Linked DNA regions of Homo sapiens. The protein of the gene in region 6 purifies or fractionates together with the protein of the main gene of each other region. This does not show direct contact. Each region holds a gene or a part of one and is shown on either strand. Other genes may lie near its edges. The genes, in order: DCAF1, UBE2O, PPFIA1, HMG20A, RAD18, LLGL2 and UBE2A.

Evidence for each region.
Region 1: the proteins of LLGL2 (region 6) and DCAF1 purify together in Homo sapiens (co-immunoprecipitation; 4 studies listed by BioGRID and IntAct, with this or other methods). This does not show direct contact.
Region 2: the proteins of LLGL2 (region 6) and UBE2O purify together in Homo sapiens (co-immunoprecipitation; 3 studies listed by BioGRID and IntAct, with this or other methods). This does not show direct contact.
Region 3: the proteins of LLGL2 (region 6) and PPFIA1 purify together in Homo sapiens (affinity purification with mass spectrometry; 2 studies listed by BioGRID and IntAct, with this or other methods). This does not show direct contact.
Region 4: the proteins of LLGL2 (region 6) and HMG20A purify together in Homo sapiens (affinity purification with mass spectrometry; 2 studies listed by BioGRID and IntAct, with this or other methods). This does not show direct contact.
Region 5: the proteins of LLGL2 (region 6) and RAD18 purify together in Homo sapiens (affinity purification with mass spectrometry; 4 studies listed by BioGRID and IntAct, with this or other methods). This does not show direct contact.
Region 7: the proteins of LLGL2 (region 6) and UBE2A purify together in Homo sapiens (co-immunoprecipitation; 3 studies listed by BioGRID and IntAct, with this or other methods). This does not show direct contact.

Annotation. Positions count from the first base shown.
Region 1 is NC_000003.12:51,398,545-51,402,723, reverse strand, and holds part of DCAF1 (DDB1- and CUL4-associated factor 1), read left to right. Parts: intron 1-3,896; coding exon 3,897-3,955; 3' UTR 3,956-4,179. UniProt on the Homo sapiens protein: Acts both as a substrate recognition component of E3 ubiquitin-protein ligase complexes and as an atypical serine/threonine-protein kinase, playing key roles in various processes such as cell cycle, telomerase regulation and histone modification.
Region 2 is NC_000017.11:76,442,708-76,446,886, reverse strand, and holds part of UBE2O ((E3-independent) E2 ubiquitin-conjugating enzyme), read left to right. Parts: intron 1-4,179. UniProt on the Homo sapiens protein: E2/E3 hybrid ubiquitin-protein ligase that displays both E2 and E3 ligase activities and mediates monoubiquitination of target proteins. Negatively regulates TRAF6-mediated NF-kappa-B activation independently of its E2 activity.
Region 3 is NC_000011.10:70,375,190-70,379,368, forward strand, and holds part of PPFIA1 (liprin-alpha-1), read left to right. Parts: intron 1-1,342; coding exon 1,343-1,411; intron 1,412-2,840; coding exon 2,841-3,006; coding exon of another isoform or gene 3,007-3,014; exon of another isoform or gene 3,015-3,282; intron 3,283-4,179. UniProt on the Homo sapiens protein: May regulate the disassembly of focal adhesions. May localize receptor-like tyrosine phosphatases type 2A at specific sites on the plasma membrane, possibly regulating their interaction with the extracellular environment and their association with substrates.
Region 4 is NC_000015.10:77,472,217-77,476,395, forward strand, and holds part of HMG20A (high mobility group protein 20A), read left to right. Parts: intron 1-4,179. UniProt on the Homo sapiens protein: Plays a role in neuronal differentiation as chromatin-associated protein. Acts as inhibitor of HMG20B. Overcomes the repressive effects of the neuronal silencer REST and induces the activation of neuronal-specific genes.
Region 5 is NC_000003.12:8,942,431-8,946,609, reverse strand, and holds part of RAD18 (E3 ubiquitin-protein ligase RAD18), read left to right. Parts: intron 1-4,179. UniProt on the Homo sapiens protein: E3 ubiquitin-protein ligase involved in postreplication repair of UV-damaged DNA. Postreplication repair functions in gap-filling of a daughter strand on replication of damaged DNA.
Region 6 is NC_000017.11:75,531,759-75,535,937, forward strand, and holds part of LLGL2 (LLGL scribble cell polarity complex component 2), read left to right. Parts: exon of another isoform or gene 1-1,120; intron 1,121-1,541; exon of another isoform or gene 1,542-1,947; intron 1,948-4,179. UniProt on the Homo sapiens protein: Part of a complex with GPSM2/LGN, PRKCI/aPKC and PARD6B/Par-6, which may ensure the correct organization and orientation of bipolar spindles for normal cell division.
Region 7 is NC_000023.11:119,577,139-119,581,317, forward strand, and holds part of UBE2A (ubiquitin-conjugating enzyme E2 A), read left to right. Parts: intron 1-4,179. UniProt on the Homo sapiens protein: E2 ubiquitin-conjugating enzyme that accepts ubiquitin from the ubiquitin-activating enzyme E1 and transfers it to a E3 ubiquitin-protein ligase. In vitro catalyzes 'Lys-11', as well as 'Lys-48'-linked polyubiquitination.

The DNA.
Region 1 (4,179 bases), on a different chromosome or scaffold from region 6:
ACATGCCTATAATCCCAGCTACTTGGGAGGCTGAGGCAGGAGAATCGCTTGAACCTGGGAGGCGGAGGTTGCAGTGAGCCGAGATCGTGCCACTGCACTCCAGGCTGGGATAATAGAGTGAGACTCCATCTCAAAAAAAAAAAAAAAAAAAAAAAAATGCTTTGTAGGGTATATGGCCTTTGTTGCAGCTCTTCAACTCTGCTGTTGTAGTGAGAAAGCAGTCATAGACAATCCGTAAATGAATGATTGTGGCTGTGTTCTAATAAAACTTTGTTTTGCAAAAATAGGTGGTGGGCTTGTAGTTTGTCAACTCCTGCTTCAGAGGATTAGCCTTAGAATGAAAGGCCAAAGTGTAGCTCTCCGCCGAGAGGCATGGCTAGAATCAGTCAGAAGCAGCCCCTCATGGGGTGCTGTTCTTTTTGGGGTGAATTATAAAGAAATGCAGGCCCTCTTGTGGAGGAGCCCTTTCCTGTCTCCCTTTGGCTAATCCCTCCTAACAGCCAAGGGGAAAATATTTTCCCTTTGGCTTCTGGTTTATTCACTTCCTTTTATTTACCTTTTTTTCTTAATCCAAATTTTGAGGAACAAACTCCAGTTCTTCTAGTTATTTCCCATTAGGTTTCTGAAGTCAAGTTGTCCCCTGACTATGGTAATGAATCCTGCAGAAATCAGCAAATAGTTCAAAGAGGCTGTTAGCTCTGCAGCTGTACATGAATCTTCTTACCAAGGCTGTATTTTGAGGAAGCTTGAGGGTGGGAGGGTAGGGGAGTGTCTTCTATATGTTCATCTGCTGTTCATCAACTTCTGTTTTTTCATACTTGGAGGCTGAGGTGATTCAGTGGAGTAGGCCGAAGCCTGGTCAGACAAAGTTTTAATGAACGTTTTTGTCACGTGTGAATAGTGAGACATGGGAAACAAGTTATACCTCCTTTCAATTACAAGTAGTTAGCAGGGCAGGTTCGCAGGGTCAGCAAACAGCAGGCCAGCTGATGGTGGTGCTCCCAAAATAAGAGAGCATCACTTTAATTTTTCCATTCTTAATTTGAATATAAAGCCACTCAGTTTGTATTTGGCCTGTACAATTACTGCCTCTTTTAGCTGTTGAGGAAATTCCTTCTTTCAAGCCAAAGGTAATCTGGAAAACTTTAACTCTATCAGTTGTGAGAATGTTGTTACTTTATGAGAATATTTACGATGTGAAAATAATGGATCACAACTTGAGGACGTCTCAGAGTGGACTTCAGAATTGAGGTGGAGATGCAGAGGTGGCATCTGGAGCACACTCCATGGCTCTTTCTGTGTTTCATAGAAGAGCCAGCTGCTGTCAGCAAGGAGAGCATTCTTAGCACCCATGGTTTTGCCTAACACTAATCCTTTAGAGCAGTAGCTCTGAACCTTACTGGGCTTATGAAGAGCCCTTTTAGGATAGGGTGAAAGCCATAGAAACTATAGAAAACCACACCCATGCGCCCCCACGTACCTTTACGTAGGCCCTGGAGTCTGCAGGGACTCCCTGATTGCAGATGCAGAGCCCTGGCCCTAGGAAGAGAAACAGCTTGATTCTGAGATCTTTTTTTTTTTTTTTTTTTTTTGAGATGGAGTCTCACTCTGTTGCCCAGGCTGGAGTGCAGTGGCGCAGTCTTGGCTCACTGCAAGCTCCGCCTCCCGGGTTCATGCCATTCTCTTGCCTCAGCCTCCTGAGTAGCTGGGACTACAGGCGCCCGCCACCACCCCCAGCTAATTTTTTGTATTTTTAGTAGAGACAGGGTTTCACCGTGTTAGCCAGGATGGTCTTGATCTCCTGACGTCGTGATCCGCCTGCTTTGGCCTCCCAAAGTGCTGGGATACAGGCATCAGCCACTGCACCCGGCCTGATTCTGAGATCTTTATGTGTCTCTGCTTGTCAGCCCTGCCTCCAGAACCTGTATGTTGTAGAGCGATAGGTTAAACACTACAGGGATTAATTATACCTAGATTGTCTGCCTTAGCGACCTTTCAGAATGGGAGGTCCTAACCAGGGTTTGGGATTGGGTCACTTCAACACTTGGAGAATGGGGAAAGGATAAGGAAGGTGGGGAAAGGATAAGGAAGGTAGAGAAAGGCGTCCTATGGTCTGACCACCAGAGGGGAGTTGGTGCCCAAGCCCTGGAGGTTTTCTCTCAGACCTTGAGCCTGACAGTTACTTGCTTAAAGAAGATTGTGCTGTGACCTCGTTAAGCTGCATTTACAGTTCTTAGATGTGCTACAGCGTGGTTAAGATTCTTAGTTCTTAAGAGCTGCATAGCTGCTGGGCAGAAGGGTCTCAGGCCGGTGGGTCTGGCATTGTTGGCTTGTGGAGAGCATGAGTCCTGGGGGATGCTGTGGATGCTGCCGCAGGGACCAGGCAAGTTTGTGGTATGGGGTGGGGACACAGTGCTGGACTTGGCTCTGGGGAGGAGGCCCCACACCCTCCTGTGACACTTCCTCCTGGAGCTCTTACAGCAGAGGAGCTGAGGCTTGCTTTGTTCAGCTGTGTTAGATAATAGTTCTTTGCCATCTCCATCTTGTTTTCCTACTCTTCACCAATACATCACCAATACAGTCAGGCCACTCTTGTGCCCACTTAGACCCAGGAACACTGGTTTTGTCAGCCATTTCTTTTGCTTACTTCCAGACTTTTTTGTATCATTGCCATGCTTTTCTTGGTTTTCCTTTGTCCACTTCAGTTTTCCTCCTAAAGGAAGTTGTGTTTGGGGATAATGAATGAAGGAAGGTTTGGGAACATGATTGCTCTCTGTTTGTCCAAGAGTTGATTCTCTTAGGCACTGGAAAAAGGCTGATGAGGGATTCTTTGCATCTAGTGGCTGCCCCTTACCACATGGGGCATTTGCAGGGCTCCAGCTCAGGGTTTGTCTGTTTTACGGGCTCAGGGTTTGTCTGTTTTATGGGGGACCTAGGTAAAATGGTTTCATAGCCTCCTGAGCTACGAGTAATCAAATTGGGCACTGAGAACTTTCCTTTTCTTTGACTCAGCGAATATTAGAGTCCCTACAAGCTAGGTACCCTGTTTCTTTCTGATTTTGATCAGCCAGACATGGTGTATCTACCTCATCTTGAGGGTCCTTTTTGCTACCACTTAAGTTTCACCCCTTAACAGATCCTTCCAGAAGTGTTAATGTGTCCGTGTGCTGCCAGAGAAGGCAGATTGTCAAGCAGAGAGGGTCCTCATCAGAGACAGTGCTGTCTTCCAGGGCGTCACACTGCTCCCGCTGGCCTCCTGCCTCTGGATGGGTAGCTACTTCTCTTGTATTGCTGCAAATTGGCCTGCACCTTTTTGGGAATATAATTTGCAGACTATATTCTGAAATTACAGAGGCATGAATCTAGGGTGACTATCTCTGCCTTGGTGGTCGGTCTTCTGAGGATTGAAGGGAGTGACTAAGGTGTTTCAGAAAAGATACATCTCTCACTTTTGCCTGGTCTTAGCCTGCCTTTCTAGTGGTCTCTTGGGGTCAGGCAGGCCTGTGCGTATCCTTGAAGGACAGCAGAGGCCAAGGGCCATGGAGGCTTACTCACTGCTCCCGTCAGCTCTGCCCCTTTGCAGCCATTTAAAGTGGCATGGGGGGAAGCTTCAGATGGCACTCGCTTGATCCCTTCAGCGCCTCCCAGGCAGGAAGCAGGGGAACTGTGTCCAGGCCCTTAGGAGAGCAAAAGGTCTCCGGGAGAATACAACTGCCAAGCAACAGGAGTATTCTCCAGAGCCAGCTCCAAGGAGTTAATTGATGTGTTTTCTTCTTTCTGGAAACTGGTAGTTAACCTTGCTCGGGCATGAATGTATGTGAGTGCAGGTGCTTCTGTAGGAAAGCTTCCTATAAGCCTAGTGTGTAATCTTGTCTCTCCCTTTTCTTCCCTTTCAGCTGACAGCTCTGACAACTCTGATTTGGAAGATGACATCATCTTATCTCTGAATGAGTGAGGAGCCATCACTGCTTGGAAGAGATTCTTGGCAGGCGAGAAACTGAGTCAAATGAATTCAGAACATATTCCCTTCTCTTTCTCCCAGGGCTGTCTGTCTTTTAAGGAGCTGCATGCCCTGCATTCAGAAGATTATGGCTTAGAGAGCCTCATTGGCACCCGAGGGTCCTTCCAGAATCAATAACCACCACAAAAATGACAACAGGGACTAGGCCCTACTCTGCA
Region 2 (4,179 bases), 910 kb from region 6:
GAGAACCTTTGACTGCCCCTCAATGTTGAATGAAGCAACCTCTGTAGTCTGATTCATTCCAACACTGAACTGCAGTTCAGTTTTATTCCCCAACTCCACCTCCTAGAGCAAAACAAGTGTGCAGACACTCCACGTAACTGGCATTTCTGTGTTGCCTCAGAAGTGGTCAGCTCCATTAGGAGCTCCAACTTGACCTCCTGTCCGCTCTGCTGCTGTCATCCTTCGGCTGGGAATGCTGAGTCATGAGACAGGTTCAGGAAGGATTCCTTGGAGAGGCTGAGTTCCACCTCAATTTCAGTTTCTGTTCCCTTCAGTTTCCGTGTGTTTTTGCTTTAGGACATTAGAGGCCTCTTTGCACCTTCCCCATCTCTACTTCACTTTTATCCCTGTTTCTCTCTGTTTTGTTTGTTTGGTTTTTTTTTTTGTTTGTTTTTGTTTTTTCATTTTCCTGTTATACTAAGAGGAACTTTTTCTATTTTTTACTACTTAACCCACCATGGGGGCTCATGGAATCCAGTGGAACCTGTTGGGGGCCAGCACTTTTTAAAAGGGTGCAATTGTCGTGTATAACATGAATTGCCAGCACAACAGTCCTGGGCACGTGATCAGTGTCAGCTGCCGCTGGTGGTCGGTCCCCTCAGAGTTGGAGTCAGGGTGGTTTTCTGTGACATGTGGGTTTTCACCCAGGAGGATATGATCTGTGCTCCTATTCTGATGGAAGCTTTTGGAATTTCCTTGCCCAAGGCTTAGCCTGCTTCTGGATGGCGATGGGGAGTTGCTGATTTAAAATGACAATCAAAAGGGGCAAGTTACAATCAGGAACGTCTATAATGTGCTTTCCAGTTTACAAGAGGCTATCACTTTTCTCACTTAATAGGATCTCGGTATTTTTAACTGTAGCTCCTTCCTGAGGCTCCACTTGCCCATGAATGGGTGCCAGTCCTGGAGAAGGTCATGGTCTAAATGCTGCCCATCCACATTTGCAGCTCTTACTGAGCAAGAGTGCCCGTTCGGAATTGCTTCATCTTCTGACATTCCAGCCAGCCACGGGGGGACTCTGTCAGGAGCCACTTGATGTGTGCAGTTATAGCCAGGGAAGAGCAAAATGCTTATTGGAATTTGCTGTAGTTGAGAATAAAATTGAATTGTGTTACTGGATAACTCTCTGGATTTATCTACTCCAAGTTATTTGCCTTTGTTTCATTCGTTAGCTATACTCTGTGATTGAGGATTTAATGTCCTTCAATCCAGGCTGACTGTATTGGATGGATCCTTGGGTCAGCTTTGTCCAGGTCACCCCTAGACACAGGTAGGCTGTGTTCTCCTGAAGCAGTATTGTGAAAAGCACATTTTTATGGTTTAAACATTGCAGTCAGTTGACATACCACTCAGAAGTATTCAGTGGGCAATAAGGATTGGAATGAATGTCCTTTTTGGGTTTAATCTGGTTCTTTGGTTGGGGGATTTTGAGTTGGTTTGCATTTTTAGAGAGGCCACAGCAATATTTAATATTCTGCAGCTAAGTCAAAGGAGTAAGACATTTTTCAGGTCACTTTTGGTTTAAATTGATAGCATAACTATACCTGGGAAACAGTCTGACTATGATAATTGAAAGTAAAAAAAAAAATTAAAACACTGAGTCATGCTTGGAAAAAGAAAAAAAAAAAGGCAGTCAGTCCTACCCAACAATGACATGAATATTCCCAGCTAGCACTGACAGAGAGATTTCCTGCAGGCACCCTTAAAAAGAGAGGCCTTCATTTGCATCCTGCAAGAGAGCTGGTCTTTTCACACTCAGCAGCTCCGATGATGTTCTTCCTCCTCCTTTTAATTCTGGTCCTTTTTGTGGGAGCTCCCTCTGGAAGAGGGCAGTTGAAGATAGATACCTTGACCGGCAGATTCAGCGGACTGTGTGTGTGGTCACCGGACTGTGTGTGTGGTCACCGCTAGTGCAGGTGGGAAGTGTAGACACACAAATACGTCTCCAGGGATTCTGGGAGCCTCAGGGCTTGACATATGCAGTGCTGAAAGCATCCCGGTATTCATGTGCTCTGACTGTTTTATTATTTAAGGGATTCTGAGGGCCCTGAAGGTTGATGACATCATCTTCAAGCCAAGGAAGAAAGCATTTCTCTGGTCCCCCAGTGTGCTTTTGGGTCATCCCAGCACTGTACTGGGGGAAATGGATGTCTGCCTCCATTTCCTCATGACCTGCTCTCGCCTTCAGTCATTTTCTGTCTAACCTCTCACACCACTGAGTGTGACGGCTCCCCTGAAGGTCACAAATGACTAGTGAATTTCTGATCACTGCATTTGCTGACATTTTCTCAGTCCTTGTCCTCATTTTGATCCATCAGCCTTATGCTCTGTCACCCAGGCTGGAATGCAGTGGCGTGATCACACCTTACTGCAGCCTCCGCCTCCTGGGCTCAAGCAGTGCTCCCACCTCAGCCTCCTGTGCAGCTGGAACTACACACTCGGCTTTTTAAAATATTTTTGTAGAAACAGGGTCTCACCATGGTATTGGCCAGGCTGGTCTCGAACTCCTGACCCCAAGTGATCCTCCCACTTCAGCTTCCCAAAGTGTTGGGATTACAGACGTGAGCCACGGTGCCTAGCTGACCACACCCTCTTTGTTTTGTTTTGTTTTGTTTTGCTTTGTTTGTGAGATGGAGTCTCAGTCTGTCGCCCAGGCTGGAGTGCAGTGGTGCAACCTTGGCTCACTGCAACCTCTGCCTTCTGGGTTCTAGCGATTCTCCTGCCTCAGCCTCCCAAGTAGCTGGGATTACAGGCTCCCGCCACCACGTCCGAGTAATATTTGTCTTTTTAGCAGAGACGGGGTTTCACCATATTGGTCAGGCTGGTCTCGAACTCTTGACCTCAGGTGATCCATCCGCCTCAGCTTCCCAAAGTGCTGGGATTACAGGCATGAGCTACCGCGCCTGGCCGACCATGCCCTCTTAACGGTATTTCCTTCCTTGGGGTTCTATTATACCAGACTATACCAAATGTTTCTCTTTTTTGCCTTTTGTCTTCTTCCTCTTACCCATAGATGTGCAGCTTTTCCAAAGACCTCTCTTTTCTTTATCTCTTCCTCCCCAGTTTTTTGGAGTGACCTCCCTGCTTGTAGCTGCATCTGGTACCTGTATTTAGGTGACTTCCACAGTGACATCACATGCCCAGCTGCTTACTTGATAGCTCCATTGTGCCATGTAGACTTTGTGGGTATAAAATCTTGTGATTGTGACTGCCCTTCCCATCCCCAAGTCTGTGGACTTAAAAAAAAAAAAAATGTTCTGACTGGGCACAGTGGCTCACGCCTGTAATCCCAGCATTTTGGGAGGCCGAGGTGGGTGGATCACTTGAGGTCAGGAGTTCGAGACCAGCCTGGCCAACATGGTGAAACCCCATCTCTACTAAAAATGCAAAAATTAGCCATGCGTGGTGGTGGGTGCCTGTGATCCCAGCTACTCGGGAGGCTAGGGCAGGAGAATTGCTTGAACCCAGGAGGCAGAGGTTGCAGTGAGCCGAGATCGTGCCCCGGCACTCCAGCCTGGGCGACAGAGTGAGACTCTTTCTCGAGGAAAAAAATATATATATATATTCCCCAACTTTTTTTGTTTTTGGTTCTGAACCCAAGACCCAACTTTTTAATAGGAAAAAATATTGACCATACCAAAATGTTGAAAGCCAGTAATTGCTAACCCCCAACCATTATGAGTCAGCAGTTGTTAACATCCTGCCATATTTGCCTTATCTGTATGCTTATGTAAATATATTTCCTCCTGAATTATGTCTGGTACTAACTCCTGCTAAGTTAGTGGCAGACATGATAGCACTTCACCCCTAAATACCTAAGCTTGAATCTTCTCAAAATTAGAGCATTTGGGGTCATTTTTAATTTACCTTCTTTGGCCCTCATTCTAACTTGTCATCAGTTCTTTGAGAGGCCTCTTGCATCCTGTGCCTGCATTTCCCTTTCACAACCCTGGTTTGCTCTCTGCTTGCCTCATGCCTGCACTGTGTAGCCTTCTCCCTGGTCTCCCTGCCTCTAGTCCTCCTTCAACCAGTGAACAGCGCTGCCGCCAACTGACCTCCAAAGGGCTGACCTCCCAAGTGATCGCCTGGATTGTGTCAGGACCCAGCCTCTGATCATGCCTTGGTTGTCATTCAGGGCCC
Region 3 (4,179 bases), on a different chromosome or scaffold from region 6:
AAAAAAAAAAAAACTTCAGACAACTAGTTTTTGGTTTTTTTTTTTTTTTTTGGTCTATTGGCTTTCCCTTTTCTGTTGGAAGCATGAGAGTCCTGCAATAAACCAGATAAGGACGATCTTTCATTCCAGCCCATGTGCCTGATCAGAAGAGTGACATATATTTAGTTCTTACATGGAAAGAGAAGTGTTTTTAGGTGTGCCACATGAAGATTTTATTAATTTTGTTTTTATGGGTAATTGCCTTATGCCATTCTTTTTGACTCATGGGCTCATTTGAAAAACAGGGAACTTTTATTCCTCTACAGAACATTGAATATGCCAGGCAAGGTGGCTCATGCCCACAATCCCAACACTTTGGGAGGCCCAGGTAGGCAGATTGCTTGAGTCCAGGAGTTCGAGACCAGCCTGGCCATCATGGTGAAGCTCTGTCTCTACAAAAAAATACAAAAAAATTAGCCAGGTGTGGTGGCACATGCCTGTAGTCCCAGCTACTTGGGAGGCCAAGGCAGGGAGATTGCTTGGCCCGGGAAGTGGAGGTTGTGATGAGCTCTGATTGCGCCACTGCACTCCAGCCTGAGTGACAGAGTGAGACCCCCATCCCAAAGAAAAAGGAAAAAAAAAAAAAAAAATTGAATATCTTTGGCCAATACCCCTGACCAACCCACACAACACACCCTTGTTAATATGACTCCAAGGATCATGGATCCCTTTCTGCAAAAGCCCATCCATTGACTCCACATTAGATGCCCTGATTTAAAATATTATTATGGTTCAATGTAGTCATAGCAGTGAGGGAGTTGTTTTTTTGTTTGTTTTGAGATGGAGTTTCGCTCTTGTTGCCCAGGCTGGAGTGCAATGGTGCAATCTTGGCTCACTGCACCCTCTGTCTCCCAGGTTCAAGTGATTTTCCTGCCTCATCCTCCCAAGTAGCTGAGATTACCGGCACACGCCACCGTGCCCGGCTTATTTTTGTATTTTTAGTATAGATGGGATTTCACCATGTTGGCCAAGCTGGTCTCAAACTCCTGATCTCAAGTGATCTGCCTGTCTCGGCCTCCCAAAGTACTGGGATTACAGGCATGAGCCACCACACCCAGGCCCTAATTTTTGTATTTTTAGTAGAGACGGGGTTTTACCATGTTGCCCAGGCTGGTCTTGAACTCCTGACCTCAGGTGGTCTGTCCGCCTTGGCGTCCGAAAGTGTTGGAATTACAGGCGTGAGCCACCAGACCCAGCCAGCAGTGAGGGAGTTTAAGTCTTGGTTTAAAAAACAATTACGATGCTAACACCCTTCAAATTAGATTTGATGAAAGTTTTATTTGTTTTTCTTTGGTTATTTCAGGCTCGTGCTGTCTTGGAAAGAGAATTTAACAACCTTTTGGTCATGGGGACTGATAGAAGGTTTGATGAAGTAAGTTTTTGGCCTAATGTTCTTTAAATGTCTGAAATGTGTGTAAATGTTTAAATGTGTGTGAAATGTAAGCTGTTATTATTATTATACTTGGGACATCATGTAGCTAGGCAGTCTCTCTGGATGTTAGAAGTCAGGCTTTGCTCTTATACATTTATTCACAAATGAGCCTTTAAAAACTAATACCTGGGCCGGGCACGGCGGCTCGCACCTGTAATCCCAGCACTTTCGGAGGCTGAGGCGGGCGGATCACCAGAGGTCAGGAGTTTAAGACCAGCCCGGCCAACATGGTGAAACCCCATCTCTACTAAAAAACACAAAAATTAGCCGGGCGTTGTGGTAGGTGCCTATAATCGCAGCTACTTGGGAGGCTGAGGCTGGAGAATCGCTTAAACCTGGGAGGTGGAGGTTGCAGTGAGCTGAGATCGCACCACTGCCCTCCAGCCTGGGCGACAGAGAGAAACTCCATCTCAAAAAGAAACCCCCTCCCCGCAAAAAAAAAACCCACAAAAGTAATACCTTCAAGAAGGTAGTTTTGTTTTTATTTTTGCTATTTAATTTTTGACATCCCTCAAAAATGGTTTTCACATCATAAAACATTGGTTGCAGCTTAGGAACAGAGTCTGTAAGTTGGGTTTTGGGGACCAGTAGTTATCCTACCCCAGTCCAGAGTGTACCCCCATACTCCTGTGCATGGGTGGGGTGGCATGTTTCAGAAGTATATTAAAAACACAAAATGTTAATTTCCCCTTAAAACCATGACTCATTTGTTCCACACGATTAGGAGTCTCTTAATTGGACCTTAAGAAAAGTTGAGTTTGACAGAGAGAATAGAAGACCACCTCTAAAGATGAAGCACTTGTTGCTATATCCTGGCATAAGATAAAATTGTTTCTAGTTAAAAATTGTTTGTAGAGCTGCGTGTGGTAGGGGCACACCTGTAGTTCCAGCTACTTAGGAGGCTGCGGTGGGAGGATGGCTTGAGCCCAGGAGTTTGAGGTTACAGTGAGCTATAATCACACCACTGCATTCCAGCTCGGGCAACAGATCTAGACTCTGTCTGTAAAAACATAAATAAAAATGAAAAATAAACTATTTTTAAGATAAATAAAAACGTATTACGTTGCAAGAAAGTGATTCCTGCAAGGTGTAAGAAGTAGAACATGATGCTGTGGAGAAGGAGCACATCCTCATGGCCCAGCACCGACCTCATTTCGCCAGCTGAGGCCCAGCCGGACCATCACCATGCCCCGTTTCACGCTGAAGTTCCAGGTTGGGCAATATATTGTGTGGTCATCAAGAAGGGATTAAATACATGTGGACAAGAATACATTCTCGAGATCAGCAGTCATTTTAAAGGACATGTAACTTTACATCTCTGACCTTTATTTTTTAAATGAATCTTGTTTTTTGTTCCTTAATTTACCAGGATGATGATAAAAGCTTTAGGAGAGCACCTTCATGGAGAAAAAAGTTTAGACCAAAGGACATTCGTGGCTTAGCTGCTGGGTCAGCAGAGACTCTCCCTGCAAACTTCCGGGTGACTTCTTCTATGTCTTCCCCCTCTATGCAGCCAAAGAAGATGCAGATGGACGGTATGTGATGGGTCACACTAACCTGTCACTTGTTGGGAGCATGAGCAGCTTTCTGTCTGGAACATTAATAATGATCTAAAACGGCCTATTTAATATGTTACAAGGCACTTGAGTATGGTTGCATGTCCAAATATAAATGTTTTTAAATTAACTCTAACATTTGTTTATAAAAGTTTAACCATAATAATAGAATTTTTAAAACACGCTTGTCTGGTTGAATCTTAGCATATTTTTCCAACTAATAAAGCTCAGTATTCGTCTGTGTTCTCAGAGAGAGACTGAGGCATACTTGTAAATTTGTGTCTGTGACAGGCCGTGCTAGAAAGCTCTTTCAGGAAATAGTAGTGTAGTAGTAGCTTCCAAACCACATAATTTACTGCTCTCCACACCAGAGAAAATAACTGAGTACATTTTTAAGAACACACAGTTTCCAGCTTGTGTGAGCTCTGCCTATGCTTTCTGCCCTCCCTGCTGCTGCTGTTCCGTGCAGTCACATGTCTACCCATTAGAGGGCAGGGAAGGGAGGAAGGTGAACCTCCAAGAAGTCCCCAGTGGAGCGAGGCAGCTATTGACTATACCAGCCAGAGAGAGAGCATCACTGCCATGATTTCACATGCAGTTTGGGATTTTCCCTTAGACGGCCACTTTGATTTGAGGTTAACAGTTGACCATGGCTTCCTTACAGGTCTCTCAACTCTGCCCTTGTACTCATCTAATGAAAGGCAGTGCACAGGTTGAAGAGCCAGGCTGCCTAGGTTTGACTCCAGCTCTGCCACTAGGAGGTGCATGACCCTGAACAAGTCATTTAACTACCCTGGCCTCGGTCTCCCCATCTGTAAAATGGTCGTCATGGTAGTGTCTTCCTCATAGAGTAGTTGCGATGATTGAATGCCTCATTCATTAAGCTGGTGAAGTTCTGAGCCCGTGTCAGTCGGGGCTGTTTGGCAGCCCCTGTGCTACACACAGGTCACTCATGCTCACTTCTGAGGCCAGTGAGCAGACTGGAGGAAAGGAAGTGGCATTAAAAACTGTGCTAATCCTTGAGGCCAGGAGTTTGAGACCAGCCTGACCAACATGGCGAAACCCCGTCTCTACAAAAAAAAAATACAAAAATTAGCCAGGTGTGGTGGCACATGCTTGTAATCCCAGCTACTTGGGAGGCTAAGGCACAAG
Region 4 (4,179 bases), on a different chromosome or scaffold from region 6:
CAACTACAATGTCGATAGAGCACAAGCGACAGTATCTCAGGTTTGTTTTTTGTTTTGTTTTGTTTTTTGTTTTTTTGAGATAGAGTCTCACTCTGTCGCCCAGGCTGGAGTGCAGTGGCACAATCTCAGCCCACTGCAACCTCCGCCTCCCGGGTTCAAGCAATTCTCCTGCCTCAGCCTCCCGAGTAGCTGGGACTACAGGCTCGTGCCATCATACCCGGCTAATTTTCTGTATTTTTAGTAGAGACAGGGTTTCATCATATGAGCCAGGATGGTCTCGATCTCCTGACCTCATGATCCACCCGCCTTGGCCTCCCAAAATGCTGGGATTACAGGCGTGAGCCACCACGCCCGGCCCAGTATCTCAGTTCTCACACCTCCTTTCCTATTCCCTCACTTCACTAGCACATGTTTGTGTACTGGCTTCTTTCCTCCCACTTGGTTCAGCCCCATTGTTAGGATTTAGGCCTGTGTTTCTGTGTGTGTATGGGATTTAGGTGTGTGTGTTGTTTCAAATTCTGTTTTCTCCTTCAAACTTTTCTTGTTTCCTCTAACTTCCTTTAACCCTCATGGCTCTCTATACTTGTGTTATGTGCTTAGCTGATCTGACCTAGGGGTTTTGAGGTAATTCAAGGGCTCACACTCTTTGGTTGTAATGTCTTTGTGGACATACACAGTCTAGTTTCCATCTTTATATCCAACCCCATACCACCTATCATGATACCTTTGCCTTGAGAAGGTATTCCACAAATGATTATTTTATGGAATCTATTCAAAGTTGACCTGAAATAACTGAGAATTTGAACAAAAAGAATTTTCTGATGTACTCTTTTACATGTGTTTGGTTTTTTACTAAATCAAGGAAATGTTGGTTACCTTAAAACATAGAGAAAAGATTCAGATTCACAGGTCAAATAGACGTTATTACCATCTATGAATTATAAAGTGAGAAGCATAGTAAATATTTACATTTTATTCTTCAGATAAATCCTATATAAATGTAATTATATATGACATTCTATGCTCTAATTAGGATGAAATGTTATGTTGTTTTGCTGGAGAAACTTTGTATGTATTCTTTGTATTTTAAATCATAATAATATTGTAAACTTTTCATATTAGCAGACATTTGTATAATTACTTCTCTCTTTCTTTGCCTGTGTGCCCAGCTATCAATATCATGAAATTCCTGTGCTTCTTTTTTTCTCTATTTTATAGCTTCTCTATCCTTAACAGTTACCAAAGAGAATTTGGACAGTAACCTGAAACATTAGATCTCACATTTTCTAGTCAGTCATCTGAATAGGTGTCAGTCATCTGACTCATTTCATCACTATGAATTTTGCTGGCCAAACTATATGTAGCATTTTTGTCTTCAGTAAACTTGATAGTTGCAGTCAGAAAAGATGTAGATTTAGTCTGTATCATAGAACCTGCTGCTGATTATTTGAGAAGTGAAGGTGTTTATTCAGATACATTAGTGTGATATGAATTTCTGTAATTTCTGTGATTTGCAAAAAGAAGTGAGTCTCTGTATTTCCCTGTTACAGGATTAGACACATGTTAAACCAAACAAAAAAAAGGAGTGAGTAGATGGAGAGCCAGCAGTTGTTTCTTAAAAGGTTATACAGTAGGTTCTGTAAATCCATGTGTTGGTATGGCCACAGCAGGATAAAGCTCCTTTAGTAAGCGTGTTGACCCAATTAATGTCCCTTACTTCATCCATTTTTATTTTTCACTGAATAATATGTTTCCTAAATTAGATAATTTTAGAACAATTGCAGTATAAAAGAACTGATTTGAAAGTTTTAAAACTGTTTTTAAACACTGTTACCCAGTAATTTTCTTACATATAACTTCTTAGTATAATAGAAGTTCAGAAAAATAGCACTATGGGTGAAAAGCAGCCGCAGAAGGAGCCCATGGAAAGGAGTAATTGAATCAGGACTTAAAAATGACCTAGGTTTTGTGGGCATCTCAGGGTGGGTAAAATGGCTTGAGCAGAGGTATGAGTAAGTTTTTAATAAAAGAGCAAATATCTTGCAGTGTCTAAAGACCATAGATCCTAAATACATACTTATTTCCCTTTACTTATCCTATGAGGAGTAAAACACTGAGACTCAGTGATCCTCTCAACTGACCACCTCATTTTGCCAGTGAGGAAAGTGACTTGCCTAAGACAGTATATAGAATGGAAAGAATTTACCCAGAATCACTTACTGAATTAAATTAGAGGCAGAATTGTGACAGAAACCCAGGCCTTCTGTGTCATAGTCTAACATTCTTGACAGCACAGTGCCATGCTACATAGCATAAATTACAGCGTTGAAAGTAAAAATGGGCCTCGTTGCCCAAGGTGTCAGCAAAATGTGTTGCCAGTTAAGTAAACTATTTGGTTTGTGTATAGTAAAGAAACCTATTGTATTCCTAAATGAAACTTGGATCCCTAAGTCATTGTTACCAAGGCAGGTACTGGAGAGGGCATATTAGAGCTAAAGAAATGCTGACCTGAAAGCCATTCTGCATAGCAGTGGGGCACTTCAGGCTGGTACACAATGTTAAGAGCATTTCCCAAAGTAAAAGTCTCTTGAGAGAAGCACATATCACACTCTTTGAAATTCTGGCCCTGAGCCTAGATCACAGCAAAATAGGTTCAGTTCAAAAGGGCCTCTTTTCTCTTAACCTCCACTCAATATATAGAATGGAAACCAAAGTGAAGAATATTCTTGCTCCTCTCAAATCGAAAGCCAGCCCACTAGACCCAAGAGTTAGCGAGTATTACTCTCAAGAAAGTGTCTATATCTCATGTGAAAACTAAGATAGAAACAATAATTTTGTTTCTCCTTTAATTTATGAGAAATGACAGAATGACACTCAGCTTGAACAAATTAGACCCTTTCAGTGAAAGGGTAATCAGATCCTTATGATTTTAATCCTTTGAGCTATCCTTGGAGCAGCTTAAGTACACCCAAGCCCCCAGAAGGATCCTCTCCATGCCGTGAAATGTGCTCAGTAATGGAAGAGCGCTGATGGTTTTTATTACCACTCTTCCATTAAGTAGAATTTCTCTGTTACCTTTCAGAGACTGAACAGTTTCATTGAATTGCTTTAATGTTTCTTATTTTGTGCTCTGAGAATCTGTACCAAGGGGCAGTGTGTTAATGCACCTATGTGGTGCTGTCCTCTGCCCTTACATAATTAGCTTGATTTGGACTGCTCTGGCAAAGAAGAGAAAAGATTACCAGTCTGAGGAGAGTCAAGACTTTGGAGGAGAGGGATCTTTGTACCATGGTAATGGGAGCCAAGCGTCTCCACTTTACCCATCTAACTGGCAGATATTGAGACGTATAGCTTAGGTAACTGATCTCATGTAACTGCAGTTAAGTTGGAGATTGAATAAGATAGGATGATAATGTCCTAAGTCTTTATGCTGTCATCTGTGGACTTATGTTTATATCTGTTATGCCTTGTGCATGTTGGGATTGTGTGTCATTAAGTTTTGTTTTCCTGCAGCAGCCCAGTAACAGTTAAAGCATATGGGAAGCCAGCAAATTTGAGAGAAAGCCACTGCGAAATATGGCTAAGATTCCTTCTGGAACCAGCCTTTCTTGTTCATACATTAGTTTCCATTGAAATCCCCTAGGAACTGGCTCGAGGTAGAGCTTTGCATGTTGAAACTTGGGACTTTCGATTGATAATTTTGTTGTTCATTTTCAAATTATTCTGGGAAACTTTGCTTTCTTTTGTTAGGAAGAAAAATACAAGTAGAAATTAAGTGCTCTGAAATTACATAGCTTTTCAGTGTCTTTCTTGCTCAGCTGCCATTGGCAGGTGGTTCACACAGCCCAGCCCCCTTACTAGGCGGCCACCGTTATGAATACAGGAGCTCGGGTGTCAGATTTCCCTCTTAAGCTGTGAACTGCTTAGCTTTTCTACTGGGCACCAAGTCATTTTTGTGTTCAAAGATTTAAAAAACTAGTGGAGGCTGGGCACGGTGGCTCAAGCCTGTAATCCCAGCACTTTGGGAGGCCAAGGCAGGTGGATCACCTGAGGTCAGGAGTTCAAGACCAGCCTGGCCAACATGGCGAAACCCCGTCTCTACTAAAAAAATACAGAAAATTAGCCAGGCATGGTGGTGGGCACCTGTAATCCCAGTGACTTGGGAGGCTGAGGCAGGAG
Region 5 (4,179 bases), on a different chromosome or scaffold from region 6:
GTCAAATGCATGAATGTGTGAAAGTGAGTTTGGTCACCCAAAGGGATATGAAAAGGCATGTTTCAATATCTTGGATTACTTTTAGTTTTAATCATGCAAGTCAAACAAGAATTTTTATGAAGGACGTACTGGTTTAGATAGTGGTCAGGTGCCCCTGTAGTTAAGTGTAATCATGTGTTGCTTAACAGGGATGTGTTCTGAGAAATGTGTCATTAGGCAATTTGGTTGCTGTGTGAACATCATACGGTGTACTTACACAAACCAACATGGTATAGCCTACTACACTCCTATTCTATATGGCAGGGCCTATTGCTCCTTGGTAACAAAACCTGTACAGCATGTTACTATAGCTAATACGGTAGGCAGTTGCAACACAATGGTACCTATTAGTGTATCTAAACATAGAAAAAGTACAGGGAAAATATGGTATAAAAGATAAAAAATGGTACATCTTTATAGGGCATTTACTATGAATGGAGCTTTCAGGACTGAAAGTTACTCTTGATGAGTCAATGAGTGAGTGATAAGTGAATGTGAAGGCCTAAGGCCCTTACCATACACTACTGTAGACTTTATAAACACTGTACACTTAGACTACACACTAAATTTATAAAAAAGTTTCTTCAATAATTAACCTTACTGTAACTTTTACACTTTGTAAACTTTTATATTTTTTTAACTTTTTGACTCTTTTGTAATAACACTTAGCTTAAAACACAAACACATCGTATAGCTGTATAAGCATCTTTCTTTATATCCTTATTCTGTGAGGTTTTTTCTGTTTTTAAAAATTGTTATTATTTTTTCCTTTTTAAACTTTTTCTTAAAAATGAAGATGGAGGCCGGGCTTGGTGGCTGACGCCTGTAATCCCAGCACTTTCGGAGGCCGAGGTGGGTGGATCACGAGGTCAGGAGATCGAGACCATCCTGGCCAACATGGTGAAACCCTGTCTCTACTAAAAATACAAAAATTAGCTGGGCATGGTGGCACACACCTGTAATCCCAGCTACTTGGGAGGCTGAGGCAGGAGAATCGCTTGAACCAGGGAGTTGGAGGTTGCAGTGAGCCGAGATCACGCCACTGCACTCCAGCCTGGCGACAGAGTAAGACTCCGTCTCAAAAAAAAAAAAAAAAAAAAAAGAAGATGGAAACACACACATTAGCCTAGGCCCACACAGGGTTAGGATTATCAAGATGTCACTTAGCAATGGGAATTTTTCAGCTCCATTATCGTCTAATGAAACCACCACTGTGTATTTGGTCTCTTGTTGAACAAAGCATGTTGGAACATTCTATGAGGTACCTTATGTTGCTTTTAAAAATATAAACAGATTTCTTTCAATAGAATTACACATTTCTTTATTGGTTTGCATTCTAAAAACGATCAAATTTAGTACAGTTGTCTCTCAGTAAAGGGGATTGGTCCCAGGACCCCTGAGAATACCAAAATCTGTGGATGCTGAAGTCCCTGACATAAAATGGCATAGTATTTGCATATGCACATCCTCCCTTATACTTTAAATCACCTCTAGGTTACTTATAGTCCTAATACAATGCTATATAAATCGTTGTCATACTGTGTTTTTAAAATTTATATTATTTTTCATTGTTGTATTGTTACTTTTATTATTTTTTGAACATTTTTGCTCTGTGATTAGTTGAATCCACAGATGCAGAGCTGGTGGATGGGAAGGGCCGACTACAGTTTATTGTTTAGCCAAATGGTTCTAGACTGCTGTTTACATGTTTCTGATCAGAACAAGCATTGCAGGACTTTAGTTACAGAAGTCCATGGAATTGATTGCATAGATTTAATGGCTGCCCATGTCTACCCAAAGGCCTATTTTGACTCTTGATTCTTAGCCCCATTCTGAAGAGGTAAGGTTATTGTATAGTTAACAGATGGACAAGACTTTTCCTTCCTTCCTTCCTTCCTCCCTCCCTCCCTCCCTCTCTGCTTTCCTTTCTTCCTCCCTCCTTTCCTTTCTCCCTCCCTCCTCCTTTCTCCTTCCCCTCTCTATTCCTCCCTCCCCCGTCTATTCCTCCCTCCCTTTCCTTCCCTTCCTCCCTTTCCTCTCTTCTTCTTGCTCTGTTGCCCAGACTGCAGTGCAGTGGCATGATCATGGTTCACTGTAACCTCGAACTCTTGGGCTCAAGGGATCCTCCTGCCTCTGCCTCCCAATTAGCTAGGACTATGGGTATGTGCCACCATGTCCACACTGAAGAAATAAACAAAGCTTCCTTAAATATGTGGTAGAATTTACCAGTGAAGCCATCTGGGCTTGGAGTTTTCTTTGTGGAAAAGTTTTAAATTATAGCTTCTGTTTCTTTAACAGATAATAAGGGCTCTTCAGGTTTTCTGTTTCTTTGTCAGTTTTGATGAATAGTGCTTTTCAAAGAATTTGTCCATTTTATCTAAAATTTAAAATTTGTTGTTTTAAAGTGTTCATAATATCCTCTAATTATCTTCTTTATAGGATTTGTAACGAGGTCTTCTTTTAATTCTTTGTTTTGGTAATTTGTATTTTCTCTCATTTATTTCTTGTTCAGTCTTAGTAGGGATTAACAGTTTTGTTAATTTTTTCAAAGAACCAATGTTTGGCTTTGCTTGTTTTCTCTTGTTATCTCTTCTATTTCACTAGTATCTGTTATTAGTTTCTCTCTTCTTTGGGTTTAGTTTGCTGTTCATTTCCTAACCTTTTAAGTTGGAAGCTTAGAGTGGTGGTTTTTACTTTTTCTATTTTCAATAATTTTCCCTCCAGGGACAGTTTTGGCAACCCTTCATGCTATCGTTCAGTTTAGAATATTTTTCTAGTTTTCATTGTGATTTGACATGCGGGGTTATTTAGAAGTGTGGTGCTTTATTTCTTAACATTTGGAGATTTTCTAGTTATTTTTCTGTTGTTGCGTTTCATGTAAATTCGGTAGTGGTGGAATCTATGGGTTGATTTTTTTTTTCTATCAGATTTGAAAATTCTCAGCCATTGGTTTTTCTAGTATTGCTGATTTCCCATTCTTTCTTTCTGTTCCTTCTGGGCTTTTAATTATGCCCAATATCTCATACTTTTTTGTGTTTGTCTTTTTCATTCATTTTTCTCTCTGTGCTTGGTTTGGATATTTTCTATTGACCTGCCTTCAAGTTTGTATTGTGTGTTGTTATACTCATCCAATTTAGATATGGTATTTTGCAGTTGTAGAATGTTCATTTTATTCTTTTTTATGGATTTTATTTCTCATAATACACTATCTTTTTATCCCTTTTCTTTTTTTTTCTTTAACATGTTTATCATAGTTTGAAGTCCTTACCTAGAGATGCTATTCTTTGGATTACCTCTGGGTCTGCTTCTATTGAATATTTTATCTCTTGATTAGTGGCTACTTTTTCTTGCTTCTTTGCATGTTCAATAATTTTAAAATATGTGCTGAACATTGTGGTTGAAACGTTGTAGAAGCTGTGAATTGTCTTCTTTTGAAAGATGTCACATTTTGTTCTAAGAGGCAGTTAAATTATCAGCTCTTCATCTTTGTTCTGTCAAGGCCTGGTATAATGTTTTCTTAGGTTAGGTCTGTTTGAGCTTTGTTTATATTTCTTCAGTGTGGTCCATTTTTCTAAGGTGTGGTCTTTGTGGGGTGTCACTTGAATGTCCATGATCTTACCAAGATTTCTCAGCTTTGGCTGGGCTCCAATGCGAACAACTAACTTTCCAGCACTGACGTTTGGGATTTTAATTTACCAGTATCAGCTTCCTAGTGGGTCTCCTGTGTTTTTGTCTAATCATGTGCAGCCCTGGAAATGAGCAGGAATGGATGTGAATTTCTAAGCAGACTGGTGGGGTTCCCTTTCAGTAGCTACCACGTGTCAAAGCACTCTGACCCCTCAATCCTGGCCAGTTTTGTTCAGAACTCTGATCTCTTATTTTCTCTAACAAGTAAGATCAATGTTTCCTGTTTAGACTTCACTTTAGTACCCATTCCTAGAAAATGCTCCCAGGGTAAAGTAAGTCTTGGGGGAAATGTTGGACTACTTCATGTTTTCTTCTTTTTCAGGGATTGCAGCCTTGTGTTGATTTCAGTCCAGTGCCTACAAAGAGTTGTTTTTTATGCAAGTTAGGCCATTCTTACATTGCTATAAAGTAAACTTGAGGCTGGGTAATTTACAAAGAAAAGAGGTTTAATTG
Region 6 (4,179 bases):
CTTTGCTCAGGTCCCTTTGGGGTGGCCTTCCCCACAGCCCTGCCTCTCAGAGGAAACTGGCTTTGAATACTCACCCCTCTCTTCTTCCCAGGAACCACAGCGAATTCTTGAGCTAGGAGAGGCTGCTCTGGGCGTGGGGACGAGGAGGCTGCAAGGCACCTGACTCTACCCTTCAGGAATTCGGCAGAGACTGGAGCCTTCTCTCGAGACACCTGACTTAGTGTTCCCAGAGTTTGATGAGAGGGACATCTGGGCACAGGACCATATGACTGTAATAAATTATATATATGTATATATACACACACACACACACACACACTTTTTTTTTTTTTTTTTTTTTGAGACGGAGTCTTACTCTGTGGCCCAGGTTGGAGTGCAATGGCATGATTTCGGCTCACTGCAGTCTCCCCAGGTTCAAGTGATTCTCCCACCTCAGCCTCCCCAGTAGCTGGGATTACAGGTAGCTCCCCAGTAGCTGCTACCATGCCCAGCTAATTTTTTGTTTGTTTTGAGACGGAGACTTGCTCTGTTGCCCAGGCTGGAGTACAGTGGCGCGATCTCAGCCCACTGCAAGCTCCGCCTCCTGGGTTCACACCATTCTCCTGACTCAGGCTCCCGAGTAGCTGGGATTACAGGCGCCCGCCACCACGCCCAGCTAATTTTTTTCTTTGTTTTTTTGTTTTGAGTCTGAGTCTCGCTCTGTCGCCCAGGCAGCAGTGCAGTGGCATGATCTTGGCTCACTGCAACCTCTGCCTCCCGGGTTCAAGCAATTCTCCTGCCTCGGCCTCCTGAGTAGCTGGGATTACAGGTATGCGCCACCACACCTGGCTAATTTTTGTATTTTTAGTAGCGGGGGGGTTTCCACCATGTTGGTCAGGCTGGTCTCTAACTCCTGACCTCATGTGATCCACCTGCCTCGGCCTCCCAAAGTGCTGGGATTACAGGCATGAGCCGCTGCGCCCAGCCCTCTAGTAAATAATATTAACATTTAATATAATTCTGGAATTCTCTGGGGGTCCTGGAGCTTTGGTTAAAGGCAGGGTCCACAAGGGTATTCCGAACAGGATGCCAGGCATGACGTCCACAGGGCCCTGGCCTTGGCCGGAGACTTGAGGACAGGGTAAGGAAGTTCCCTGAGAACCCTGTGGGGTCCTACCTCAGTGTTTCGTGGGGTCAGTGATTGGCAGATACCTTTTCTAGTTAATCCCTAGTCAGTCTTAACTGTTCGTTCATTCATTCAAGTACTTTTTTTTTCTTTTTTTGAGGAGTCTTGCTCTGTCGCCCAGGCTGGAGTGCAGTGGCGCGATCTCGGCTCACTGCAAGCTCTGCCTCCCGGGTTCACGCCATTCTCCTGCCTCAGCCTCCCGAGTAGCTGGGACTACAGGCTCCCGCCACCACGCCCGGCTAATTGTTTGTATTTTTAGTAGAGACAAGGTTTCACCGTGTTAGCCAGGATGGTCTTGATCTCCTGACCTCGTGATCTGCCCGCCTCAGCCTCCCAAAATGCTGGGATTACAGGCGTGAGCCACCGCACCTGGCCCTTTTTTTTTTTTTTTTTTTTTTTGAGATGGAGTCTCACTCTGTCACCCTGGCTGGAGTGCAGTGGCACGATCTCGGCTCACTGCAAGCTCCGCCTCCCAGGTTCACACCATTCTCCTGCCTCAGCCTCCTGAGTAGCTGGGACTACAGGCGCCCGCCATGATGCCCAGCTAATTTTTTGTATTTTTAGTAGAGACAGGGTTTCATCATGTTGGCCAGGATGGTCTCGATCTCCTGACCTCATGATCTGCCCGCCTCGGCCTCCCAAAGTGCTGGGATTGCAGGCATGAGCCACCGCGCCCAGCCCGTTCAAGTATTTTCTGATGCCTCTTGTGTGGTTCTAGATGTTGGATGTGATCCTTAAACAAAGCAAAGATGTCTGCCGTCGTTGAAAGTTGTTTCTAAAAGGTGAGAAGCCTGACTGACAGAAAGTAAAAGTAACTAATAAATTGTGTTAAAAGGTGATACGGGCTATAGGGTAAAAAGAACTAGAGCAACAATTGGGAACCCGCATGGTAGGGGGCAGGTTACAACTTTTAACAGGTGGTTAGAGTGGGCCTCTGCCAGAAGGTGACATTTGAGCAAAGCTTTGAAGGAAGTGAGGGAGCTGTTTAAATAAAATTCCAGTCCCTCCCATGAGGCACCTGGATGAGGCCAGCACAATCCCCACCTCCTGGAGCTGACATCTGGAAGCTTCTTGGGACAGCTGTTCCAGTTTTAGGGCAGGTAGGAGGCCCTAGAAAGGGGCCTGATTGGATGGGCTGGATGGCCTGCCCACGCCAGCCCCAGGCAGGTGGTCCATCTTCTCCCCAGAATGGTTTTGCTTTTCCTTGGACTTGGCTTTCTGCCAGTCACTTCCCTGGAGAGAGAGTCTGGTGTTGGATTATGAAAGGGGGCTAAGGCCCCCAGAATGGGGGTGCGTTCCCACCTTCCACCCCATCCTCACAGGCCCAGGAGGGGCAACAGAAAGGAAACTTCAGGAGGAGTCTAGGCATGGCGGGAGGATCCTCTTGGGGTTGTGGGATGGTTGTGATTCCATAGGATAGATGGTGGGGGGAATGGAGGCTGACCCCAAATGGGGCCCATCCAGCCTGCGAGCAGGCAGCCCCTTTGTCCTGGGAGAGAGGCCTGACCTGAGCGGAGGATTCTGCAGTCAGATTGGAATGCAAATTGGGGCTTGGATTTTTTTTTTTCTTTTTTTGAGAAAAGGTCTCGCTCTGTCACCCAGGCTGGAGCACAGTGGTGCCATCATAGCTCACTGCAGCCTCAACCTCCTGGGCTCAAGTGATCTTCCCACCTCAGCCTCCTGAGTAGCTGGGACTACAAGTGTATGCCACCATGGCTGGCTAATTTTTAAGTTTTTTGCTGAGACAAGGTCTCCCTAAGTTGCCCAGGCTGGTCTCGAACTCCTAGGTTCAGTGGATTCTCCTGCCTCGACCTCCCAAAGTGCTGGGATTACAGGCATAAGCCACTGAGCTTGGCAAAGGACTTGGACTCTTGACTGTTTGAGCTTGGGGCCACTCTGAATCGATCACTTCATAAGTAATTGTAAGAATTAAATAAGGTGAATGTAAAGTGCTAAAGTCACATCCAGCCATAGCTAGCTCTCAATCCCTTTTACTACTTAATTAACAACAGCGGGGACGACAGTCCTCCAGTCATGCCCCCATTCCCTCTGGTTTGTGTTCCCCTAGATCCCACTCCATGGAACTGCCTTTCAGCCAAGGTTTGGTTGCTAAGCTGCTGGCCAGGGACCTGCCTGGTGCTTCTGGGAGACTGGGCTTCCCAGGGCGACATGGGCACTTGCAAAGCGGCTACAGGCGTCTGAGTTGGCACAGATGCCGCAGGGGTCAGCAGCTGCCTCTGTGGTTTAGATCCCTGCCCACCAGTGCCATCAGAGTAGGAGGTGCAGGGGCGGATTCACATCCGTCAAACAGGAGGCCACAGCCACACTCAGGCCTCACACAGGATGTCGCAGAGGGGAAGGCAGCTTCTTAATCAGCAGCGGGCTGTGGGGAGCACGAGCGAAGAGGAGAGGAGAGCATGGGACATCAGGTGGCACGCCCTGAGAGCAGGCAGCTGGCGCTGGGTGCGGCCCGGGGGCCCTCTCTGGTTTCGGCTGGGTCTGGAGTCCTGCCGCTGGGTGTGGACTCTCCCAGCAGATCAATGAGATCAATGGAACTTCCCGAGCTATGGAGGGAGTTTCTTGAGGGCTGGCCCCTCCCACATCTCCAGGCCAGAGGGCTGGCTGGGCTTGGCCAAGCCTTGGTCTCACAGGGACAAATTAGCCCAGGTGCCCCAAACAGTGGCAGGGTGGGAGAAGCAGTCTGGCCTGGGGATCCCCTCTCCTCCGAGGCACAATCGCATCTGCCACTTAGAGCGAGGGGGGCCCAAGGCAAGTCCACCCCGTGTGGTTATTCTCTCTCTCTGCCCCCACTGGTCTCTTTCTTGAGCTCTTGAGATGGAAGGCGGGCCAGGGTGTGGATTTTGTGGCCTGTCACCAAGTGGAGAGCTCTCCTGTTCTTTCCAAGTGGGTGTCCAGGTGTGTGGACACCTGTCCTAGACCCAGAAATATTTTGCCGGCCAGGTGCAGACGTGGGTGAGTGGAACAGTGAGGAGGGAAGGAAACAGGTCGATCAG
Region 7 (4,179 bases), on a different chromosome or scaffold from region 6:
GGTCTCAAACTCCTGACCTTGGGATCCACCCGCCTTGGCCTCCCAAAGTGCTGGGACTACAGGCTTGAGCCACCGCACCCGGCGAGCACTAGTTCTTTATACCTGAGCTTTAAATGTACAGATTAACTGTGTTTGCTTTAGCTCTAGTAGGCCTTGTTTTCATTGGCTTCTTTTTTCCTCGTTTTACTCTGTTTTATGCTGGGCACAGCTTTATTAATAGTACATCACTTTGCTGGGGATTGGCTACCTAAATATTTCAAGGGTGCTTCTCTTAAGTGGTATGAATTGAAAAGGTACTTACAGAGTCCATTATCTACCAGGACTGTCACCTTTGACATTACTGGTTCTATTTTTGATGATGTGTATCTCCATCCTAGCATTACTGAAAGGAATTACTCAGGCTGATTTGTTCTGTTGAACAGTCTGCTACCGATGGATGCTTCCTCAGGTGTCTGGAACACTGTGGCCTGTGGTTCCCCCACAAAAAAAATTTTAGCTTTTTTTTTTTTTTTTTTTTTTGAGATGGAGTTTTGCTCTTGTCACCCAGGCTGGAGTGCAGTGGCACGAGCTCAGCTCACTGCAGCCTCTGCCTCCCAGGTTCAAGCAATTCTTCTGCCTCAGCCTCCCAAGTAGCTGGGATTGCAGGCACCTACCACCATGCCCAGCTAATTTTTGTATTTTTTAGTAAAGAGGGGGTTTCACTATGTTGGGCAGGCTGGTCTCGAACTCCTGACCTGAGGTGATCCGCCCACCTCGGCCTCCCAAAGTGCTATGATTACAGGCATGAGCAGCCGTGCCCAGCCTTAACCATTTTTTGAATACCCTTTATTTATAGTTGGGGAATTTACAGTTAGAGAAAAGACTGATTAGGGATAAGTGGCATAGTTGATTTTGCTGTTTCCAATGTATTATGTTATTAATTAAGAACCCCAAAACTACTTTTGCTTCTTTGTTGTAAACCGTTCGTTATGGAAGTTTCTGGAACAACCAGGTCCTAGTTAGAGTGATGAAATCTTAAGACAAGCAACACTTAAGGGTATTTTGGTTTAACTTCACACACTCGAAGTAAGAGGAATATATTCTCAAGAGCTTACACTACCAAAACATTGGGGAGAAATGCTTCCTCATCAGAATATCTTGGTATACATGCTAAATACAAAGGTTATGGAATATAATCTTCATCACATAATCTAAAAATTGTTAATAGACATGGTAAGGTACTGGTATTTGCTTTTCATAATAGATGTGTTCTTTAGAATTGGGGTATAAATCGTTTTTATTTTTTTTTAATTTTTGGAAATGTTTCTGAGTCATAAAATCTTTTTCAAAATGAATCTCTAAAGTCCACTAAGAGTGTTTTAAATATAAATAAATCCTATGATGAAGAGTTTTGGATATTACTTGAAAAATCGATTTTCAGTCATCAAAAATAATTTTGAAGTTATATGTATTTTGCTTTCTTCTCAGGGGTCACAAACTGGTGGCCAAATGGCAGAAAACACCTGCAGGTGTGTTTTCTTTGGCCAACACAGTATTTTCCAAAACTTGACTTTGTGAGTGTCTTTAGGCAGAACATATACCCCCTCTAGTTCAACCATATCACTCCTTATTGCCATACACCAGTCACTTAACACGTTTATGTAATTTTGGTGGTCTCCCTGTATAGATGGATTAATTGATACTTTCCTTACGATGTCTTAGCCTCCTCGGGAAGATGAACAAAATTAGTATACATTATGTACAACAATGGTGAGGCTTAAATTTTCAGTTATTTTAAAGCCTAGCCTTCTAAATATTCAGAGGGTAAGCTGTAGTCTCAAGACTGCATAATACTAATTCTGGGATTTTAAATTCCCTTAACATTTGTTTTAGAGCTTAGAAATTACATTGAAGGTTATACTAAACAGGTTCTGATTAGTGTGACTAAAAGTGTGAAGTTTTTACCCTCTTTTTAATGTGTACCTTGAATAAGATTTGGGTTGTCTTAATTTATATTCAAGTAGACATAAATAGGTTGCTTCACTTCTCAAGATATTAAGTGAACTGTTTTAAAAGACTTGCGATTAACTTCTTTGGTAGCTAGGTAATCACTTAGTTGAACTTCTGGGCAAGTGTATGCAGAAAGCTCAAGTCAAGGAACTTGTGAGCCACCAATATAGGTACTCAACTTGCTTTGAACTGTGAGTGTTTGATGTAGACCTAAAAGTACTGTTTAATATCTGAATGCCTTAATTGTATATTTCTTACTGATAGTTCTGATTTTTGGGTTTTGCCTCCTTCAGCTGAGTCTAGAGATGTGAAACTTTAGAATTATTATAGCAAAAATAGTTGCTCATGGTTTTGGAGCACTTAACTTTGTGGAACTATGCATATTCCTCTCATTTAAACCTCACAACAATGCTATATGGTGGGTACTATGATTAATCTCATTTTACAAATGAGGAACTTAAGGTTTAGTCAAGGAGAACACCTTCCCCAAAGTCTCACAGCTAGTAAGTACCAAAGCAAGGACTTGGGCCCAGACCTGTCTGACTGCAGAGCTCATGCTCTTAGCAGTGTGTTTTACTGTTTTTGCTTATGGCTTCCCTATGTCTTGCTTTACTACCTTTAGATACCATATTTAGTGATGGTTTTGAAGTAGCTGGGATCTCCATGTGCTATTACATCTGCCCAGTTTTAGAGCAGTGTCTCTTACCCATAATTTAGTCAGATTGCAACATTGATCCAAATGTGTTTACACTTGAGATCATAATACATAAGGAAACTCAAAGTTTTGAACTCTAACACATTCCCACTTTTTCTTGCATATTATAGTGTCAATAAATACTGAAAAGGAAGAACTGTGCTTTCTTCCTCAGAAAGAGGAAGATTTATGACCAGGTGGTGATAAAGGTGAAGTATGTTCTGATGGACATACTTCCATACTTCTAATGGGCATATGTTTGTCCATTCCATAAGATTTTACTTTCTTAGTTATAATACATAGTATCTTCAGGTCTGGCTTTGAAAAGAAAATAGGGAGTAACAATAATTTGAGGAATATAATGTCTCTGTATGTTGCATTTTATATTATTTTGAAGCTTTGAGACACTTGTTCATAGTAAGGGCAGCTTTGTTAGCAAATTGTTTCCAATGAGCTTGCTAAAAACAAACTTTTTGATACTGTTTTGTCACAGATCTAGTCCTAGAATGATTATAGTCTTCTCTCTTTCTTAAGCAGTGATAAACCTTTTAATGAGAACAAAAAGGAAATAAATTGCTAACTCTGAAGGAACCAGTAAGAAATACACTGAAGTATGGTCTGTTGTTTTAGAATAATTTGTTAAATGGACCAGAGTAATATAGTGGAACATGCATCACCTTATACCATATAGTAACTGATTCTTCTAAGTTTACTTGAACAGATTTCAGTCAGGAAAAAACATTGCTCAATTGTGTTCTTCAATTTATTCAACAAACAATTGAAAATAATATTTTAAAGGACATAATCTCTTCATATCACATCTTAACAATTCTTGAATGAGATCCAGTTTGTCCATGCCTTGTAAGTAAGTTTATAACCTACTATGCTTTAGGGCCTCCTGCTACCTTAGGTTGACATATATTTAAGAAAAATAATTTCATTTCAATAGTAGCATAAACATTAGAAAAATAAATTTGCTGGAAACATGAATGCAATCTAAACCAAATGTGATTTTAAAATTATTTCTGCCATTAATTCCCTCCATATGTGTGAATAATTGAGTTGATTTTATAGTGAAGTACCTTATGAGCCATACTTAAGGGTTTCTGAGAGGGACTATGAAGTTTTTCCTGGCTTAAATTCAATTAAGTTTTCATTATAGGGTCACTATGACATGAAAAGGAACCAGTATGAACACTTTTATACTTATTCCCTTCTATTTTAAAAATAACTTGATTATGGATTTGTATTCTGGCATTGGTTTTTGAACCATTGTGCTTTCATTCTTTCTAGTCTGTCTAAAAATCACTGGAGCGTTTAAGATGGCAGCTGACTAACATAGGCCTTTGAGGTCTTTTGGTCTTCTAAAGGAAGAAGGCCAAATTTTGGGCCCAGTTTCTTAAGGATGTTTTCAAAATGTACAGTGGCTAAAATCTTGTAAGCAGTAATTTTGTGTTTATGATGGCTGTCTCCAAGTTTGGGGGAAAATAATGGCA